Regions from separate parts of the Homo sapiens genome. Here all the other regions are linked to region 4. The links come from fine-mapping of genetic effects on gene expression. A gene starts in region 4. Each other region holds a variant in brackets. All regions are shown on one strand. Distances are between the middles of the regions. Region 1 holds the start of RNU6-7 (RNA, U6 small nuclear 7). Region 2 has its middle 57 kb from the start of ARHGAP5-AS1. Region 3 holds the start of LINC02313 (long intergenic non-protein coding RNA 2313). Region 4 holds the start of ARHGAP5 (Rho GTPase activating protein 5).

Evidence for each region. PIP is the estimated chance that this variant, and not a neighbour inherited with it, causes the effect.
Region 1: its variant is fine-mapped to the expression of ARHGAP5 in whole blood (INTERVAL, PIP 0.98).
Region 2: its variant is fine-mapped to the expression of ARHGAP5 in whole blood (INTERVAL, PIP 0.98).
Region 3: its variant is fine-mapped to the expression of ARHGAP5 in whole blood (INTERVAL, PIP above 0.99).

Annotation. Positions count from the first base shown.
Region 1 is chr14:32,200,226-32,205,376 of GRCh38, forward strand. RNU6-7 (RNA, U6 small nuclear 7) reads left to right here and starts at 1,820; the gene lies at 1,820-1,926. It overlaps RNU6-8 (RNA, U6 small nuclear 8), which reads right to left and starts at 3,044; the gene lies at 2,938-3,044. RefSeq lists enhancers at 1,372-1,431, 1,512-1,571, 2,669-3,214, 3,215-3,759 and a silencer at 2,849-3,028. The variant A/G (reference allele first, on the strand shown) is at 3,096.
Region 2 is chr14:32,016,889-32,022,039 of GRCh38, forward strand. No RefSeq gene overlaps it. Among named protein-coding and RNA genes, the nearest start is that of ARHGAP5-AS1, 57 kb to the right of the region's middle. RefSeq lists an enhancer at 3,385-4,584. The variant T/C (reference allele first, on the strand shown) is at 2,892.
Region 3 is chr14:31,942,788-31,947,938 of GRCh38, forward strand. It overlaps LINC02313 (long intergenic non-protein coding RNA 2313), which reads left to right and starts at 2,066. Exons shown (of 2, transcript NR_146544.1): 1 at 2,066-2,321. RefSeq lists an enhancer at 1,348-2,547. The variant C/A (reference allele first, on the strand shown) is at 2,152.
Region 4 is chr14:32,075,266-32,080,416 of GRCh38, forward strand. It overlaps ARHGAP5 (Rho GTPase activating protein 5), which reads left to right and starts at 2,039. Exons shown (of 7, transcript NM_001030055.2): 1 at 2,039-2,170. It overlaps ARHGAP5-AS1 (ARHGAP5 antisense RNA 1 (head to head)), which reads right to left and starts at 1,434. Exons shown (of 1, transcript NR_027263.1): 1 at 154-1,434. RefSeq lists silencers at 1,460-1,719, 2,080-2,299, 2,098-2,392.

The DNA.
Region 1 (5,151 bases), 120 kb after region 4:
CTGTAACTCTGATCGTCCTTCTAACTATAGATTCTTCTAACCATGTATCCTTTAATAAACTGATTAGTTGTAAGGTTTTTAAGAGAGAACATGAAAGAATTTTGATATACTTCTACAATCATAAAATTGAACATCAATTTACTGCTTCCTAGCTTTGAAGTCACAAAGCAGAAATAGCTTATTGGAAAGACAGGGCGTTAGAAGAAATATATCAAAGCACATTTTATTTGTAATTGGAAAATTTAACTCAACAGGAATGTCGTTTTTGCCTAATTTTTTTGAGGGGGAAAGAACAGTGTTTCTATTACTTTTCAAAAGCTGTGAAAGAAAAGAATTATAACCTCAAACACAGAAAAACATAGGGTTAGCAATAATTCCTGTGGGCTTAACTTTCTGTTCCTCTTTCTGTTTTTGGCTCAGCAATACCAGAAACTCGTATATGATTTCACACTATTTTCTTTTGGTACATCAGAAAATTGGATACCAATTAAAATTTTTCTCAATTACTGATTTTTAGTAGGTTCTTACTTCAAAATATTGTTACAGGAAGGGGTAAAACGACCACAGGAAGGAGAAAAAGCAAAACTCCAGTTATTGGTAAATGTGCCATATTCCTCATTCAACGTGCCGTTTTAACGCAACACAGGCAAACATTTGCCCTTTACTTTCTTCAATATATGAAATACTGTAACCAAATAAATACCAGAGGCTTTGATCTTTGGCCCTCATCTCACAACGCTCAGGGATATGACTTGAACAGTACGATTTTTGCTGTAGTTAAAAATCAGAATATTTAACACTAACAGTATTTCTTACGAGTAGGTCTGTCCCGTACTTTTGTATCCTAACAGGGTTAGGATGAGAGTGCAGGGAGGTATAAGGACGTACAAGAATGCTTCTCCAGTTCAACTCTAAGTGAACGATGTAATTCCTCAAATCCACCTCTCAGCCTGTTTTTCAGCGTTCCTGTGTTTGGCTGCCAGGGGCGAAAGTAGCGGTCGAGGGAAGACACCTGTGAAGGGGCGTGGCTACTCGCCCGGGTTCCTCCGTCCCTGACCCCAGAGGCGCCTGCGCAGAATGGACAGAGGCGCTGCTGTACGAGAGGGGTGTGGCCGCCCTGTCCAAGGTCCTCAGCCCCCGACCCGACGGGCGCCTATGCACACCGGCCGGAGATAGTCACGCAGATGCCAGTGGAGTCCACCGCAACTTAGAATGTAGTGCCGACGGCTCCAGAACTGAGTGGCCGAATCGTTGCAAGGACTCTCCCGGAGGGTTGAACTTTGGGTTCACTTCAGCAAAGTCTGTTGGCACAAGGCCCCAATGTCACCGGCGAAATATCGGTGAAAACTTCCATGTTTGGGGGAAGACCCCTGCCCGACCTAGTGACCTAGCGGGCCAACCGCCTCCCCAGCTCTCAGAGAGACTTCGGGGAGACGCCAAGCGCTCCAGGCCGGCCCTGTCCTCTGCGCTCCACTGCTGCCGCACGGACTGCCAGACTCCCGGCATGCTCTGCGGACTGAAGTCCGCGGCACGAGAAATCAAAGCCCCGGGGCCTGGGTCCCACGCGGGGTCCCTTACCCAGGGTGCCCCGGGCGCTCATTTGCATGTCCCACCCAACAGGTAAACCTGACAGATCGGTCGCGGCCAGATACGGCCTGGCGGTCAGAGCACCAATCTTACGAGCCTTGTGATGAGTTCCGTTACATGAAATTCTCCTAAAGGCTCCAAGATGGACAGGAAAGCGCTCGATTAGGTTACCGTAAGGAAAACAAATGAGAAACTCCCGTGCCTTATAAGACCTGGGGACGGACTTATTTGCGTGCTCGCTTCGGCAGCACATATACTAAAATTGGAACGATACAGAGAAGATTAGCATGGCCCCTGCGCAAGGATGACACGCAAATTCGTGAAGCGTTCCATATTTTGCGCGGTTCAACGAAGGTCGTTGGGCAAGATACGGTGGTGTTCCTAGAGGTTGTTCAAGATCTCTCGGGGCCTGCATTTTCCTGCTCGCGAGCTTGGCCCAGTAGACACCTACGATGCTGTCCGGGCCTCCCACCAGTCCTGTCGCACAGTGGGCACACTTCCTCGACAGCCTCCATCTTCGAGGCGCCTAGTTACGTTACTATTAAGTTACCTAGGTGATCCTCGTATCTGCGTCCAAATACTTGTTTTCATTGATTAAAATATGCTTTCAGGCTGGGCAATGAACATTCCTCCTAATCAAATTTCCCATCACAGAATCTGTCCGATTTATGTAAATCGGCCCTTTCTAAGTACTTCTTAGAGGATACATGAAAACAGAAGACTCGTGAAAACAGATCCAGATGGGCTTGCTACTTGTGGCCAGTATTCACATGGGTCCTGGAGCTCTTGAATCTATAGGCAAAGGCCAACATTGATTTCCAATAATACCAGCCCTTAGTAACATTCCTTTCCTTTGTGCAGCTCGCAGTCTAAGAGAAAGGGTGTAAGCACTCAGGTCTAAGATGATGGAGAATGGCACAAAGTAGGCGCAAGAAATGAGCGCTAATGTTTCCTTCCTTTAGTAGAGATTTATTAGGTTAGGAAAGATTTAGTAAGGATTTATTGAACAATTCATATGCCAGTTGGTCTTCTACTGAACAAAAGCCAAACAAGCTGGGGCTCTGGAGTTTGTGTTGTTTGGTGAGACAAGACCGTAAGTCTATTTCAGAATGAAAAGTTCAATGAAGAAGGCACAAGGTGACCTTTTTCCATTTCCAAAATGCGTATTAACGATCTATTCGCACACAACATTCCTCGGGTGACTCTGCTTCGTTCCCACTTCATAGATTTCACAAATTTTTTGTAATGAAAACCACTGTTTCGTCATTGGGTGCCACACGTTTTCGCTTAGATTCACACTGTTTCCTTAGTACTAATTAGCAGATACTGAAATGATCTTGACAGACTGCGCAAAATATGGAACGCTTCACGAATTTGCGTGTCATCCTTGCGCAGGGGCCATGCTAATCTTCTCTGTATCGTTCCAATTTTAGTATATGTGCTGCCGAAGCGAGCACGTTGAGAAGAAGTCACCCACAGGCCTTATAAGGCACGGGAGTCTTTCACCT[A/G]TTCTACTTACGGTGACCGAACCGCGCCCTTTCCTGTCCATCTTGGAGCCTTTGGGAGAATTTCATGCAACGGAACTCATCACAAGGCTCGTATGTTTGGTGCTCTGACCGCCAGGTCGTACCTGGCCGCGATGACCTGTCAGGTTTACCTGTTGGGTGGGACATGCAAATGAGCGCCCGGGGCACCCTGGGTAAAGGGCCCCGCGTAGGACCCAGGCCGGGGGCTTTGAGTTCTCGTGCCGCGGAGCTCAGCCCGCGGAGCATGCCGGGAGCTGCCAATGCTGCGGCCGCCTCTGAGCGCGCGGCGGGGTCCAGCGCCCAGGCGAGCTGGAGACGCCCCGATAACGAGGCTGCTGCGGCACCGAGAGGGCCGGCCCGGGGTCGGCGCGCACCTTTAGAACAGGTCGTTTCACCATTAACTTCCTCTGATGAGTAATTTTTTTTAAAAAAGTAATTAACCGACCATTATCACACCTAGAAAAGTTAAGGTAATTCCTTCATGGCACCTAATATTCAGTCTACTTTCAAATTTCCTTATTTCAGAAATTCCTTATTACAGTCGAATTGTCATAGAGATCCAAACAAGGTCCCAGGTTGTATTCGGTTGCTACGACCCTGGGTGTCTATTGTCCTCTAATTGCCCTCGCCTCGTTTTTCTTCACGTCATTCGTATACTGAGGGATATTTGCCCTGTGGATTGTCGCAGATCTTGGGATTTGGCCCATTACTTACTGATGGTGTCGTTTAACTTGTTTCTCTAGCCTCCATGTTTCTTGAAAATTTATGGTTAGGGGTAATGGACTCATTAGATTCTGGTTGTGTTGTGTTTTGTTTTGACGCCCGCACGGCTTCAAACACAGTGGTAGGGTGTGTGCTTACTGCACCTCAGCAAGAGTAGTGTATCCGCTGGCTGTCCCCGTGTGAGTGATGCCTACCCCTGACCTGTGGGTGCAGGTGCGGTCAGCCGTCTGACCCCTCACACTATAAAGTCTCCCAGAAATCTTTCCTTTAATGATTTTAGGATACACCCATGAACAAGCCAAGTAGAAGGTCTGGTCTGGTGGTTTGCTTGCTTTTTGTTTTGTTTTGAGGACACGTTGTAATTGTACATATTTATGGGGTGCAATTTGATGTTTCGATACATATCTATGTTGTATAACGATCCAATCAAGGTAGTGTATCCACCACCTCATGCATTTATCCTTTCTCTGTGGTGAGAACATTCAGTAGCCTCTCTTCTATTTTGTGGTATACAAAATTTTACTGTTAACCATTTTCACCCTACCGTGCAATAGAGCATCAGAATTTTTTCCCTCTTCTTTAATTGTATCTTTGTACCCATTAACCAATGTTTATAAACAAACATTGTGAGTTTGTGAGTTATAAGTTTACTTGTGAGTTATAAGGATTTAACCCCTGGCCTGTGGTGGCCAAGTTCTGTATCCCATGGAAGAGAATTGAGAGAATAATAGGATCAGGGAAAGAAATTAGGAAAGAGTGTTGATGTCATTTGAGTCTCTGGATCATTTGATCCCATGAGCAGGTGCTTTCCATAGTTGTTTGGTTACTCGTTCTAACAAATTACTTTTATTAGGCTAGATTAAAGTTGTTTTTGCCAAATGCAAATATGAGATCTTAAACATTTGTGAGTTTAGCATGTCTTCACACTGCACACTTGCAACATTAAAACATTATTGGCTTCTGCTAAACTCAAAAATATTTAAGATGCCGTATTTGCATTTTGACAAAAACAACTCTAGTGTTAGTACCCGTGGTTAAGCATATATGAATTTCCAATCACGTTTTTTTTTAGGAGGAAATAGTGTTCTTTATCACATCCTTATAGGAAAGTTATGAGGTAGGTGGCTATTTAATTAAATAATATTTTGTATGATTTGACTCATTTGAGAACGATGAGTCTTTTTTTTTTTGAGACGGAGTCTCACTCTGGCAACCAGGCTGGAGTGCAGTGGTGCGATCTCGGCTCACTTCAACCTCCGCCTCCCAGGTTCAAGTGATTCTCCTGCCTCGGCTTCCCAATTAGCTGGGACTACAG
Region 2 (5,151 bases), 58 kb before region 4:
AGATATGGGAGCAGGGGATAAATTCTTCCCGTTTTCTCACCGAAAGAGACATTCCTGAGACATTTTTTACATGGCTTCATTGAAGATAACTCTGTGATATCAAACAATCCGTTGTCCTTAGTGGTAGCCAGTTCAATACACTTCCTTGTACCTGTATTGGTTTTATCTCCTTTTCTGTCTCACGTTATTTATCCTTCTCTCCCGATCCTTAATGTATGCTCCCTAACAAAATCGTGGCACGTAAACCCTTGCCTCAGACTCTACTTTCTGAAGAAACCAGCTAAGGAAAAAATGTCTCTAAAGAAAGAAAAATAGAGTAATGTAAAAAATGAAAATATGGGCCAGGCGCAGTGGCTCACACCTGTAATCCCAGCACTTTGGGAGGCCAAGACAGGAGGATTGCTGGAGCCTAGGAGATCGAGACCAGCCTAGGCAACATAGTGAGACCCCACCTCTACAGTAAATTAAAAAATTAACCAGGTGTGGTGGCACATGCCTGTAGTCCCAGCTACTCAGGAGGCTGAAGCTGCAGGTTTGCTTAAGCCAGGGAAATCAAGGCTGCAGGGAGCTGTGGTCACAGCATTGCTCTCTAGCCTGGGCAACAGGGCAAGACTCTGTCTCAAAAAAAAAAAAAAAAAAAAAAAAAAACAGAGGGAGAAAAGAAAAGAAAATATTCCCCTCCATAGAGGGAAAGTAAGTCAAAGTTTAAACCTAACCACAGATAAACAGCCCATGGTCCACAGCATCCCCTGTGGAGTAAGATTTGGGCTTCAGTCCTTAGTATCAAGCAGCAAGAACTACAGAAAGGCAGTTCAACAGCCTTCTTAAAGTGCCATAGGACACCTTCACTGGAGCTTCAGAAATTCTAAATATAGAATTCAAGAGCAGCAAACACTAATATCAGGATTTAGTTTGGCCCAGAGTAACCCTGTAAAGAAGGTGAAGTTGATCTTTAATGCCTCTACAGATCATCTTTCAGCATCTCCCTTTCCTCCCCTAAGACATTTGGTGCTTATGTTCTCTTTCTCCCTCTCCTTTATTCCAAACCTTTTAGCTCTGTATTACTTTGAAGTGATCACTTAAATTGATTTGCAGTAGAGTATTAATGACGAATTGAATTTAATCTGGTAGTTCTCCAAGAATTCCAAGAGGTTTTTACAGAATAAGCCCTTAGCTCAAAAGACTGTGTTTCTAATAGCAGAATACCTAGCATCAACAGTTGGCTAGTAGAGATAGATTTGAGGGTTCTTTAAACACATAACACACACAATTATTACTTTTCATTTATGTCTAGGACTTAGTCCAAGCTTTTTTATTTATGTGTCCTTTCAGATAATGATTTTTAACTATTAGAAGAAAGGGCAACACAAAGAAAACCCTGATTCAGTTTTTTCCCACCATAGTATTATGATATTTTTTGTAGTAAATTTGGAAATTAAAATAATTTTACATGCACAGCCTTATATGTATCATTAATATGTTACTATACTTGCTTTGTCACATATCTACATATCTATCCATCCCTTTACCCAATAATCCATCTTTTTATCGATTTCAAAGCAAATTGCAGGCATCAGCATTCTTCTCTAAATACTTCCCTGACTTGATTTTCCTCTTAGATTGTCTGCATGTCAGGACAAAGCAAAGAAGAATTCAGCAACTGCTGCTTAAAAACTCATTCACTACTTTAGAAATCGAGACAAAGTGAAAGACATGGATGGAATGAATTCAGCCCCTCCTCCTATTGTTTCTCTAGCAAGAAGGTGACCAAAGCTATAAATGTTTGTTTCCTGAAAACTAAAGTCCTGACTTGTCATCTTCATAGTGAAAAGAACCTCAAACGTATTAGTTCTTATGAGCCCACATGCTATAGTTAAACCAGCTCTCAATTGTTTATTTTAAATAATCAAATTGTTTTGTTGGTGTCTTTGTGTTTGTAGGTAAGTGTTTGAAGCTATAAATCATATCTTGAACTAAGTTCAAAATTTGAGTCAAACCAACACAAGTTGTCTGATTGCATTCCTGACCCACATGGATATCCCTTGTGTATAAAACAAGTTGCCCCATCTTGATCCTTTCCAATTTGTGATCTCCCTGACAGAACACCAGCCATGGGGGTTGTGGCTTCTCCACAAACCATCTCTTGACAAGTTCAGTCCCAGTGGTCTCTCATGGCCACCTGGCATAACTCTACTTACAGCCACACAGTCAAACATTTAATTGTTTAATTATTTTGCACAGAATGATCCTGTCTGTCTCCCAGAATCTAAGCTCTAGGAGGGAGTGAGGAGGGTAGGAAGCGTGTCTTCTGAGTTTTCTTCTACATTCAGTGCTCGAGGGCTGGGCACAGTACGAGGCACACACCTAAGACTTTGCAGGTCTTAAAGTCTTTTTACAGAAATGTTCTCACTTAAACTTGATGTATAGTAGGCTGCTTGGCCTACTTGCTTCCAAAAAGCTGGCTCTGGGTTCTTTGAAAGTGTTTCTCCCGGGATACGTGATCGTGGCAGTTAATATCAGCCAGAATACTTTTCTGACAAGTCCCCAGGCAATCATCACGAGCAGGGACTTAGAGACAGGGCTTTTCTGTGTCAGAGCCAGAATTCAGAAAGGCTCTGCTTTTCTTGGTTAAAAGAGAGCCAGGATTTTTTTCTTTTCAGCACCCGTTTGCGCTGACCTCTTTTTCTGGCTTCTCAGTAAAAGGAATAAGGACTCAGGAAGCACTGGGGGGAAAACGGTTGTTTAGCTGGAGAGAGGGCTTAGGCAAGGCTAACACTGTGGGCTGGAAAAGCCACCGACGAGCTTCCATTTTTCTTTCTTATTGTTCTAAAAACCCAGGTTACTGTCCAGCCCTGAGTCATCTCATAGTACATGGAAATATATCTATTAAG[T/C]ACATTGAGTTAAACTGTTCTCTCAAGGAAGCCCTGCCAGGGAGTTAGCAGGGACATAGGGTGCCCAAACATTGGGACAATTCATTAACCAGCACCCTAATAACCTAAATTATTCATGTCAGCTTGGACCCCAGAAGGGTCCATTCTCTTCTGAGAATGGGGCCCATGGCAATGTGCTGATCCTTACATGCGACATCATGTGGGTGTTTAGCTAAATAATAAATACATTGATATGCTTAAAAAATAAAAACTGATTCAGGCAATAGGTGAATGTATCTTTCTTTCTTCTAAATTTCTCTAGATAACCTTCTTTGTCATTCTGAATTTTATATGATAGAAAACCATCTACAGGTCTACATTGGAAATACTGAAAATAATTTTATTGAAGTCTGATAATGGGTGAAAACTACTGGATCTCATGGCTCATTCCTGACCTGAGCTGGATTTAATTCCAGAACCGAGGAAGGCTATGAAGTGATCCTCTTTTCATTATCCTTATTTTTTACTGTAATTTTGTAGTGGTTTCAGTGAGGAACAGAACCACAGAAATCCTTAGGGGCTTATCATCTAAGTTGGATATAGAAACAGAAAAGTAAGGCACCCAACAAGAAGCCAATTTTCTAAAGAAAAGGGAGTCCCAGAGTTTCTACTTTTATAATTCTTCCTTCCTCTGTCATTCTACAATATCATTGTCTTCAACATTTTTTAGAACAGTCTGCCCAGATATGATCTGGAAAACAAAGAAGCATGGAGAACAAACTTTGCCAGAAGAAACAGAAGTGCACTGGGGGGCACAGGTGGAGCAGCTTTGCTGTGATCTTGGCAAGAAAGCACTTGGGATCCTTAGGGGCCACTCAATCCTCCCCTCCATACCCTCACATGGTGGCCTTGGATTCCCAGCAGAGCCTCTGTGCTATGGCACCTGGAGGTTGAAGATGTTATAGTCTCGCCAATGCACAACAATTTAGCAGTCTCTCATTGTGAGGTATCACCCGGAGTTCTTTGTCTCACAACCAAGAGAATTAAGGAGCGTGGACACAAAGGGTGAGGTTGGAGCAAAAGTTTCATAAGTGAAAGAAGAAAGCTCTCCGCCTCAGCGATAGAGCCCGGAAGAAGGTTGCTGCTTTTACAGTTCAATGTAAAGGCTTTTACAAGAAACTGTTGAGGGCTGGGTGTCTCATTTGCATAAGGCACAGATTTCTGGTAGCTCCACCCTGTCATTCTAGTGCGCATGTGGGCCCTTAGCTTGAGTTACTCCATACTGCTTTGTTCCCTTTACTGAGCATGTGCTAGAGGACAGGATTTTTCCATTGCGGGCATGTCTGGGCAAGTCACCTGTGTAGCCTTTCTTATCTGTGCAGCTGTGGACATATCTTAGGTAAGCCCCCCACCCTGTGCACGTTCCCTTATCTGTGCCTGCAGCTTGAGTTTTCAGGCTGTTCTTTTGTTTGAAAGAATTCAACTGAGGACTCACCCTAACTCCCTTCTTGACCAGTTTCTTTCTTTCTCCTCTCTCAGAGAGATCCCAGTAGCAGCCAGATTGGGACCCCTGCCTCCCATAAGATGTTTACATACTGCAGCCAGCCCTATGGGAGCCAGGAAGGCCTGCAGAACTAGATCCTGCTCAGTTGAAGTAGGACGAGGGCTTAATTACACACCCTCCCCCCATTAAGTCCTGATTTCCACACATGAGGCTGCTATTAGGCCCACAGTCTATTTAAGAATGCTCCCAGGACAGATTAAAGAAAATCAGTCTGAGCCTCTTAGGAGGGAGCATCTCATCTCTACTAGAGGAGGAAGCAGTACATGGTGAACAAAGCCAACAGAGCAGCTAGAACCAGAGAAGGCAGGGCTTAAACCCTGGCTTAATAAGGACAAGATGGCTGAGTGCAGTGGCTCACGCCTATTACCCCAGCACTTTAGGAGGCTGAGGCGGAAGGATCACATGAATCCAGGAGTTTGAGACCAGCCTGGGCAACATAGTGAGACCTCATCTCTACAAAAAGTAAAAATTAGCTGGGCGTGGTGGCTCACACTGTAGTCCCAGCTACTTGGGAGGCTGAGGTGGAGGATCACCTGAGCCCAGGAGGTGGAGACTGCAGTGAGCTGTGAGCATGCCACCATACCCTATCTTGGGTGACAGAGTGAGACCTTGTCTCACAAAAAAATATATATTATATATATATTTTTCATATATATGTATATATATGTGTGTATATATGTATATATATGTATATATGTATATATGTGTATATATACG
Region 3 (5,151 bases), 130 kb before region 4:
TGACCTGATCTTGCTTTGCAGCTTGTCTGTAGTTCTAGTCTTTAGAGTCGCGGAAGCCTGAGTTCCCACCAAGCTCAGCTCTTAATGGCTGTGTGATAATGAAGACGTCACTTGATCTTCCTGAGCCTCAGTTTCTTCATCTGTAAATTGGGATGAGATACCTCCCTCATGGGTCTGTTGTGAGGACAACATGTGATGATCCTGCCAAAGCTCTCTAGGCACTCTGTGCTTAGCTGTGTGGCCAATGCACAGTCAGCAGCGACACGATGCTATTTTTACTGCCTTCTTTCCCTCTTTCCCCAAGAGGACACACTCCTCTAGAAAAATAAGGTTCATGCAAACCTGCACTTTAAGAGCATTTATACAGATGTGCACGATGCAGTGCATGTGTCTTGATGGGGCTTTGTTAAATTGAATTTTAAAATTGTGTTTTAAATATACTTAGGGAAGTACAGAAAGGTACCCCAGAACAGGTTGTTTTATAAAGACAACAATAATTTCTGAATTATTTTCATTTCAGCTTTTTATATACTGTGTAGTCACAAAATGAGAGACCCTCCCCCACTCACCCCACCCTCACAGCTCCCCAGAGGAACAATAGCCATGAGCAAACAGTGCTTGCCTCCTGACCTTCGGGTGTTTCTCCTAAAGGCTAGCTCATTTAAGGGCAGCAGTCAGGGGCTTGCTACTCTTCGCAGCCCTGTTTCTTTTCTTGTGATGAGAAGAAACAAGCCCAGGCTGACAGCTGGCCAAGACTTGAACTAGAATGTTGAAGTTGAAAAGTCAAAATGGGTCTGTGTCAAAGGACTAGCAGAGGGGAAGGGACTGTCCTCCGGGGAGCTGAGGAGTGAGGATGGTCCTCACCTCGATCCAGCGATCAAATTCCCCAAGTAAATCCATGTAAAACATGAACTGTGGCCAGCACTTGTTAAGCAAGGAATATTAAAAATCATTGTCATTACTGCTGCTATTATTGTTACAGGCTTGTTCCAAGACTCTGGGTTTTGGCTCAGCTTGTCTAAATGGTCTTCCATCTTAAGGAATCAAGGGGTAGATTTTGGAACCACTAGCTCCATAGCCAAAGAAGGAGCAATCCAGCAACTTAGGCATTGATTCCGCAAGCCGTCCCAGAGCCTCTGTGTAGTCCTTACTTTCCCTAAATTGCCATGACTAGCTGGCTCAAGTTAGGCCTTTCTAATTTACCTGGACCGTTGCTGTCTCCTGTGCACGGCTGCGGGGATGAGCACCTTGTTGTGCGTTCCTCCGCTGGGCTGACGGAAATGGTTTGCAGCCAGACTGCTACGCCACGCGGTCTGGCATTTAGTCCTCAGAAATCTGATTTAGAGAACGTATACATTGCATCACAATCTAGATTTCAGAGGAAAGTTTTGGATAGAATAACCCAGACCCAAGTCTGGGTAATTTAAAGCCTGGGTGAAATGGGGCAGAAAGAGCCCAGAATATACAGGTCTGAATCTTGGCTGGGGTGATGTGGAAGACTGGAGGCGCCAGACGGCTGGCCTCCCTCCAAGTGTTTACCATGCTGGTGCCATGGGGCTGGGGCTGGGCAGTCCATGTGCTCATTCTTCCCTTCTCTTCTCCTCCTCCTCCCCCTCCATCTCTCCTCCTCCTCCTCATGTTTTCTATAGGCTAGAGAAACTCAGGAACTACTGACCCACAGGGAAGGCAAGCGGAGATATGAGACGGAGGAATCAAACGCTGCCCTGGTGGAGGACGCTGTGGGTTTACAGTGGATGATTTCCTCTGCCTATGAGATAAAAGGGCTGGCTCTGTACTTTGAACCCCAGCCTCACCCACCTCTGCCTGGGTGTGGCTCTTACTCTCTGGAAGACTTACTCAGGGGAGAGGACAGGACAGTGTGAGGCTTGAATCTCCAGGAAATAGAGTCTGTGGGCAGCCATTGACTCCGAGTCAATGAGAACAAGGTGTGCTGTTTCCTCTGTGCTGTTTCTTCCCTGCCCCACTCCCCGCCCCTTTGTCCTATGGTGCCCAGGCTGCCTGCACTGCCCAGATACCACAGGCCTTGCCAGGGACCTCCTGAGAGGTTTCTGAGGCTTGCAGCCAGTGGTCCCGTTAGTCTGCACGTCTCCGAGTTGCCCTCCCAGAGGAGAAAGCATATGCTGCTGGGAC[C/A]GACTGCAGCTCCTCATGGATGCACCTGCCACCAGAAAATTGTTGTTCAGTCTGGGATTGCTTTCTCTTCCCAAAGCACAATCTCACATGCAGTCATGAGCCCAGTCCAGCCTCTGGGACAGAAGATTTCGTGCTTTTATAAACCAACAGCACTGCAGGTGCTGCACAAGGTAAGTGTCTCCCTTATTTCTTTCCCTCCCCGGAAGCCTCTGTATCAAACTAGGAGTTACCTTAATAGGGTCAAAGGAGGGTGTGGCTGTTTCACTTCCTGTTGTCAGCAGCCAAGTGTGCCTGAGGACAGAGGGTGGTGGGCAGGCATCCATTATGTGTAGGGAGGCAGGTATTGTACTGCTCTGGAACACACTGAGGAAGGGGGGTGCTCTGGCTTCCCTGACACCACCTCCCTGGTCAGGCTGCCGCAAGGCACCCAGATGTCAGTTGTCTTCCCACAACCTAATCATTCACAGCTGCTCCAGGGCCACACTTAGGATCTCTTTCCAGCGGTCCTCTTAGTCTGCCCCAGGGGCATGGCAAAGGAGGGCCTTTCATCCAGGGATCTCACACTCACAGAGACTTCACATTTGGATTTTTAAAAATTTATCTCTGAAGATATGCTAATAAGACTGAAAAGATGGAAATGATCATCAGCTTTAAACTTATGCCTGATTTTGGTACCAGGCCCATGAATTTTTAAGATTAATCCTGCCATTATCCCGTGAATAGGATGGTTATATTACCCTGTGCGTTTTTTTTTTAAAGCTTACACGTGTTAAAGCCTTAATTTATTAAATGTAAACTTCTAAAATATAGTATATCACAATTTTTGAAACCCTATTTGGGGATTTCTTCATTTTAATATACCTGAAGCCTCAGATAATGGGCGTGTCCCTGGTCTTTGTCCTCCAAGCGGCCCATTGGCCACTCCCCTCTTGATGGACTGTGGAGAGAAGCTGTTCCCTTTCCACGTGGTCATTTCAACTTCAGAAAAATCTCAGGTGCAATTGCCTGTTTCATTACAGCAGCTAGCCTATAATGAAAGAGGCCTTCGAAGCTTAGGCATGCCCAGTTTGGCCCCTTTCTTCATTTTACACACTGTTTTCTCCTCCCACAGGAAGGCTTCTCTCTACGGGGCTCAAAGCTACAGGCTCTCCACCATAGGGAAAATGGCCGACTAATATTCTTGAGTTCTTTACCCTTAGGCAATGGGGCTCAACTGTGACTGCACATTGGAATCAGTGGAGAGTTTTCCAAACATCCATCCGATGCCTGGGTTCTACCCCCACAGAACCTGATTTACTTGACCTGGGGTGTGGCCTGGGCATTGGAATTTTTTAAAGCACCCCACATGATTTTAATACACTACAAAGTTTCAGAAACAGTGCCCTAAGACCCTGGTTCTCAAACATTAGAATTCATCAGAATAATGTCCTCGTGGGGAGGGTCTTGTTAAAGCATAGATTGCTGGGCACAGTTTCTGATTCAGAGTTTCTGGATGGTACCTGGTAATCTGCATTTCTAATGAGTTCCCAGGTGATGCGATGCTGCTGTTCTGGGGATCATGTATTTACAACAGTTGTGCTAAAAGAAAGACAGTTAGAGTGGTGGGTTGGGAGGAGAAATGTGAGTGAATGCATGAAAATGTAGTTATTTCTTATTCTCAACCTCTGCAGTTGGCTTCAGAGTCAGGGACACCCCTAAATTACAGCAGTTACAGAGTATATTGGTCACCAAAGCTGCCACTGTGCAGAGACCCAAGCTAGGATAGAGCTGAGCCCCAGCAGCTGGACCCTGGTTGGTGGGGTAAGGCATGGTCTGAAACAGTCTGGGGCTACAGATCAGCTCTGTCCAGTGAGAATATAATACAGGGCACAAGGGTGAGTCACTTATGTAACTTCATATATTATAACCACATTGAAAAAACTAGAAACAGGTGAGATTAATTTTAATAATCTATATTATTTAACTTAACCCTCCAAAATCTTATTTTAACAGTCATCAACATAAAAAATGATTAATGAGATATTTGGCATTCCTTTTTCATGCTAAGTCTTTGGAATCGTACATGTGTTTTACACTTACAGCACATCTCAATTCACACCAGCCACATTTCAATGGCCACACGTGGACAGTGCCAGCCTGGATAGACCTAAGTACTGGGGCCGTCTGCCCCTGACGTAGGACTGATCACAAAGGTCCTCACTTCTCCCGGCAGCACATGGCCCCTCCTTCCATGCCTCTCAGAGCTCTTGGAATCTGTTCTCAGCATCTGAGAATCCCTCTGGCGTTCTTTACCATCGGTGCTTTGGACAGCACAAAAGGTTAACCAGGTTTAGTCAGGTCTGCAGGGCTTGTTCCCTCATGTCTGTGCATCTGAGGTCAGAATCTGAGAGGTTTTCATAGCCACTCCCACTCTCTTTCCTGACTTCACCATCTATAGAGATGAGTTCAGCGCCGGGTTTTTGTTGGAGAGAAATGGGTGTCTGAAATGGATTGAGGAAGAGAGTGAGGGGAAGCTGTAGTTGGGCCTAACAGTAGAACCAGGATGGAGTTTCTTTCGAAAGCTGCAAGCAGGAATGACGCTGATACTTCTGGTGCCTACCCCTGTCAAAGGACTCCAGAGCAGTGTGAGGTTTGTGACAGGACCAGGGTGACAGTCATTGTGCTCTTCCAGCAGCATGCTGACCTCTCTCCAATTAAATTCACTAAACATACAAGTATTGAATGGCTACTGTGTTCTCAAGTATTGAATGCCTACTGTGTTCTCAAGTATACTGATAAGGCAGTGGGCTATAATTATTGGAACTACACATTTTGGAATCAGTCAAGCCTGAGTTCAAATCCCCACTTTTGCAATGTGATCTTAAGCAAGTTACTTAATCTCTAAGCTGTGGTTTCTTCATTTGCAAAATGTGGGTAATACCTACGTAGTAAACTCCTGTGAAGATAAAGTGAAGTGATACATGTCTTTTCTTAGCACAGTGCCTGACGCACTCAGTGAAG
Region 4 (5,151 bases):
GAGTGGCTCGAATAAAGCATTTTAGTTATGCCTTTTAGAAATTAGGGAGCAAGAGATATATAGAAAAATTAGAAATGTCTCTTCTACCTTTATTAAGTCTACCTTTGAGAAATATGAAGGGCAGGAAGACGGAAAAACGAACAGAACTTCTGCTGGAATATTGTGACAAATTTACTGACAAATATTTTCTAATAGATTTTTACCAACAGGCAGTTTTTGTTTTCTTTACTGACAGACCGTAAATGTACTTCTGGTTGGCAGCAGCTGCATCATTATAACACAAAAGCAACCTTGGCTAACTTCAGTACCTTATGTAACATAAGAAATAAAGAATAACTTGAATTTAAAATACTTTTTATATGTTTACTAACATTAAACTATTTTCAATGCAGGAAATAAATATTTCCCCAAAGAGGAATCCCCCCTCAATTACTTTCTTTCAGACTTAACAAATTGGAGTAGATGTGGTTTTGCTCATTCTTTTATCTGCTGGCAACTATTTTAAGTCTCCTGTGCAAGGCAGATTCCGATGACCTCGGGAAAGTCACAGGACCTCAGTTTCTTCAATGGTAAAAGCAAAGGCAGTGGTTTCTACCGTCCTTTCTCACTGCACCATTCAGCGTCAGTGCCCTCATGAGAAACACACCCAAAGCCCAGTGTGCTCTACCCCAAAACTTGTGAAATTTCTAGAGTCTCAAAAAAGTGAATATGTTTAAGGCAGTATAATAAAAGCCAGGTGGACGACAGTTCCTAAAGTTAGGCTGGTAGTGGCGTGAACAGGGGTCTTTTGGGCCACCCTGAGACCCGCCCCACGGGGCTTCTCGATCCACGTCTTGGCTTCTCGCTCCACTTTCACAGAACGTACTGAATCAGGGGCCTGCATCCCCGTGCCGTGCCGAGCCGACGGAGAAATGGACTCCTCTTCTCGCTCCTGTGGAGTTTCGTCTTCTGGGTGAGTGTGGCACCGGGTCCTGGGCGGGTGATGTCTGTAGTTGGCGAGCGATCCTCAGCCAGAAAACTGGCTGCGCACACAGGCGCAGACACGCGAACATGTTCCTGCGAACGAGCTTGGGCGCATGTTTTCCTCCCTTGCTTTCTTTAATGCTCAGAGACCATAAGGGGATTTATCGAGAAGCATTCGGTGCCCATGCCCGGTTTGGAACCGCGAGCACAATATCTGGTTCCTTTGCAGTACGGTGGTTTGCTCTTGAGTTACGACCAGAAACCGGAACAGAAGGAAAGGGAGAAGCAGGGGAGGTTCGGGGACGACGGCGCTCCGGGCAGTAAGGCAGTAGCTTCCAAAGCGTGGAGGATGGGACTGAGGAGGAGCAGAATACGGAGAAAGAGGGAAGCTGAGGAAAAATACTCACGCCAATGGGTAAAAGGGAAAAGGTGAGAAGGAATGGAGTAGGGGAGGGAACCAATGGTGGGAGAGGCGGAGGAAGAAGGGGGAGGGGTAGAAGCCAATGGGGGAGTGGAGGGGAGGGAGAAGCAGAGGGGAGGAGGGAGCGGGGACGCGAGCGAGGACGCGGCCCCGCGCGCTCGTCCCCCTCCCTCCGACTGGATAGCTCGCGCCTTCCCAGGCTCCCGGGAGACGAGGGCAGGGGCGGGGCCGTGCCGGGTGCGCGGCGCGGGAGGCGTCGCGAGGTGAAGGGGCGGGGACGGGGGATTGTGGGGAGGGCAGCGCGGGTTCGCGCGCGCGCGCGCGTCCCGTCCAGGCTGCGCCGCCGCGCCGCCGCTCCGCCCCCGGTCGGGTGTGTGGCTGCGCGCGCCGGGAGAGATGCTGAGGTAAAGTTCGGGAGAGAGGGAGAGAAATCCGTCAGCGCGAGGGAGCCCGAGTGGCCGCCATTACTGAGCCCGGCGCGGCGGCGGGCGCTGGGGAAGGGGGGAGGGACGGGCCGCCGCTGGTGGCGGGGAGGGAGGGAGGGAGGGTGGGTGAGCTGGCTGCGGGAGCCGTGGGGCTCAGGGTTTCGGGGCGTGTGTGTCGGGGAGGGCGGGGGGAGGTGGCTGAAGGGACGCGCCGCTCGGTGAGCGCGCCGAGGAAGAGAGGCGAGCGGAGAGTGGAGGAGGAGGCGGCGGCGGCGGGAGCGGTCCCCAGGAATGTCGCTGCCGCCGCCACCGCCGGGGCCGCTGCCGTTGAGGAGGAGACGGAGGAGACCGACGTTGTTAGGTAGGACCTTGCGGACCCCGCTCCTCCAAGCCTGCCTGCCCCCTCCCGGACGGGGACCCTCCTGCGGCTAGCTGCCCCGCTCGGTCGCCGCTGCCGGTTGTAACCAGTTGAAGGGGCTGGGGCCCCGCGGCCGCCGAGGGGAGCCTGGCGCTGCGCTCGGTTTTCGCAGGCCGGGCGGGCAGCAGCTGCAGCGTTAGGGATACGTTCGGCGTGAAGGGCAGAGAGGCCGGGGGAGGGGGTGCTTTCTCCACAGGTGACGGGGCCAGGGTCGGCGGAGGCCTGATGCTGGCCGGGGATCGCCGGCCCCGCCAGGCGTCCGCTCTCGCCCGCCGCCTCACTTGCTCGAGTCTCGGGTGGTCCGTCGAGAGGGGAGGTGGCGGTGTCCGTTGGCCGGGTTGCTGCTGTTAACGAGTTCCACCTGGAAAGGGTACACGGGGCGGGTGCAGATTCGCGGAAACACAGTCTCGGTTGCAAACTTAAACGCCTTGTAGGGGGGATCGGCCCTTTCACTTTCCCTCATCTCCTCGACTCCTCCCTGGGTTCTCTTCACCAATTTTCCATCTGCTTTGAAGCTTGGAGTAAGATATGAGAAGTTGCACTGCGCATCCAGAGCCCAGAGTCCTATGGGCTGACTGCGACTGGGTTGAGGCTTTGATACTGAGTTTTCGCTAGAATAACCTCCAGATTCTTCCTCTCTTTCCACTAAAGAAAAGTATCGGGGTGGGGGTGGGGAGCCGCGCGGGAGCGCGCGCGCACTTATCCACACAGAAATACTCCCTCTCACCCTCCCTCTTCAGCGTTATTAGAAATGCAAGAGAGCTGGAGGCTCGGGGTGTAGCTGAGGTTGAAAGGTGCACGGAAGTAAGGGCAAACTGTTATTAGGCCGTTTAGTAAAATCCCGAAAAAGTTGTAGGGGAGACGCTTATACTTCTACCATGTGATAGAAATTCGGATTTGGCCATCGCTTAATAAATGGGAATTCAAATATTTTGAGATAGAGCAAGATAGGCATATAGATGGGTTTGTGCTTACGTTTTAAGTTTAAATTCTTATCGATCATTTATTTTTTCCTTTGTGATAGGCAGGAAACTGAATTTTTTTTTAAATGTTCAGGTGTAAAACAGCAAAATGCTTCGCTGTATTTACTAGTACTTGCTTATGTTGCTTTCTACAGGTAGGGGCGGGGGGCGAGTTTGTCAATTCCACTTAAATCCAGAACCAGTATTCAGTTAGAATGTTAGGTGGTGTTTATCCGCATGAAGGATCTCGTTCACTTCATGGGAGCTTGCTCTACATTTCCACTTAAAATGGTTCTCCTAACAAAAATTTCATCTAGATGCAGCGATTAGACATTTGGAATAATGTTTGGTTTAAAAATACGTTAATGAAACCTTTTGCTGTCAATTCTAGTTTATTTGTACTGTAATACGATAAAACGGTATTCTTATTCAGTGTTTGTAGATAAGTATTACTAACCGTCTAGGTAACCTACTAGATAGTTTCTTGAGTAAGATTTTGCTTTCATTTTAAATTCCTTTCTCATTTTTTGCTTTCATCTATCCTTTGTATACTAATTGACCTCCATTACCTTTATCTGTAGTACAAAGAGCGGTAAGTATGTGTCACCAAAAACTTGCAAAGACACTGGAGCAATTTATGACTAAACGCACTGGAGTGAAAGGCTGCGCATACCTATGCTTGTAACTTTCAAGAAATAGCACTATTGATCTAATTGACTTAAAGCAGAATCAGACGGTACAGATGATTAAATAACTATTGATTTGGTTGTCTTGTGTAGGCTGTGTTTTTAAACCTAGATCAACATGTCTTATTTTGCCATTCTTTGTACATTAATTATTAAGAGTACTGGGGAGTGAGGTGGGTTACACTTTGATGTAAGAATTGCGGCAGAATTCTGTTATCTTTATGAGTTTTGTAGTGTCCCTCCCCATTTAAACGACCTTAGCAATTTTTAAAATGTGTTGCAAAATTATTACCTTAATTCTGTCACAAGATACTTATCCTAAATGTTTTGAAAACCGTCTCCCCTTCTTATTTGTGTTTGAAAAGCATATTAGCACAGTCATTTTTTTGGAGAGTTATTTTGACCTTGAAAGTTAAGATTATTTAAGGAATGAATATTGTATTTGCATTCCTTTTTTGGATTTGAAGTAGCGATAATAAGTTTTCTAACTCACTTTTTTTAATTGAAGAAAAAGTTAGGTCTCATAAAGACTTTACTAAACTTTACCAACATTGGCAGGATGTAAGATGAGTGTTGGCCTTTAGTGGTCACTTCTTAAATATGAAATGGCATAATAGAGATTTTCTTGGTAGCTACAGAATAAGTTTTGTCGCAACTGTAGTTTCCATAGATACTATTTTAAGAACTATTTATTTGGGTTGTATGGTCCACAGTTTTTTCTTTGCATACCAAGAAGGTGTGTAGTAATATAATTGGCTGAAGAAGCATTGTACAGTGTTGTTTTAGTGATGTCTATGTTCCTAAAAGATACTTGTATTATATATTTAAAGTACACCAAGGGAATTTAATTTCTAAAAGACCTGTGAAGAAACATCAGTAGATTCATCATTCAGTAATTTGAGTAATCAGGCTCTTGTTTTAAGTGCAGGCTTTTGTCGATTATTTTATTGAAATAGGAAAAACCATATTAGAAATTAAGAAAAATGCTTCAATGCTAAGAATTTTAAGTATGAACTTTAATTGGTTTTCAAACTCTGTTCCTTGGATTCCTGTGGGTTTTTTTCCTAGATGCCTTGAGACTTCCTATGACAACCCACCCTCCCAAACCAGGACAGCTTCTATTTTCATGTATTAAGTGTATTGTATTTAAATATAAGAATATTTAACTTAATTAAATATAAGAAAAATATTTATTATTTAAATATAAGAAAAATAACTAATGGGTACTAGGCTTAATACCTGGGTAACAACAAACCCCCTTGACATGAGTTTACCT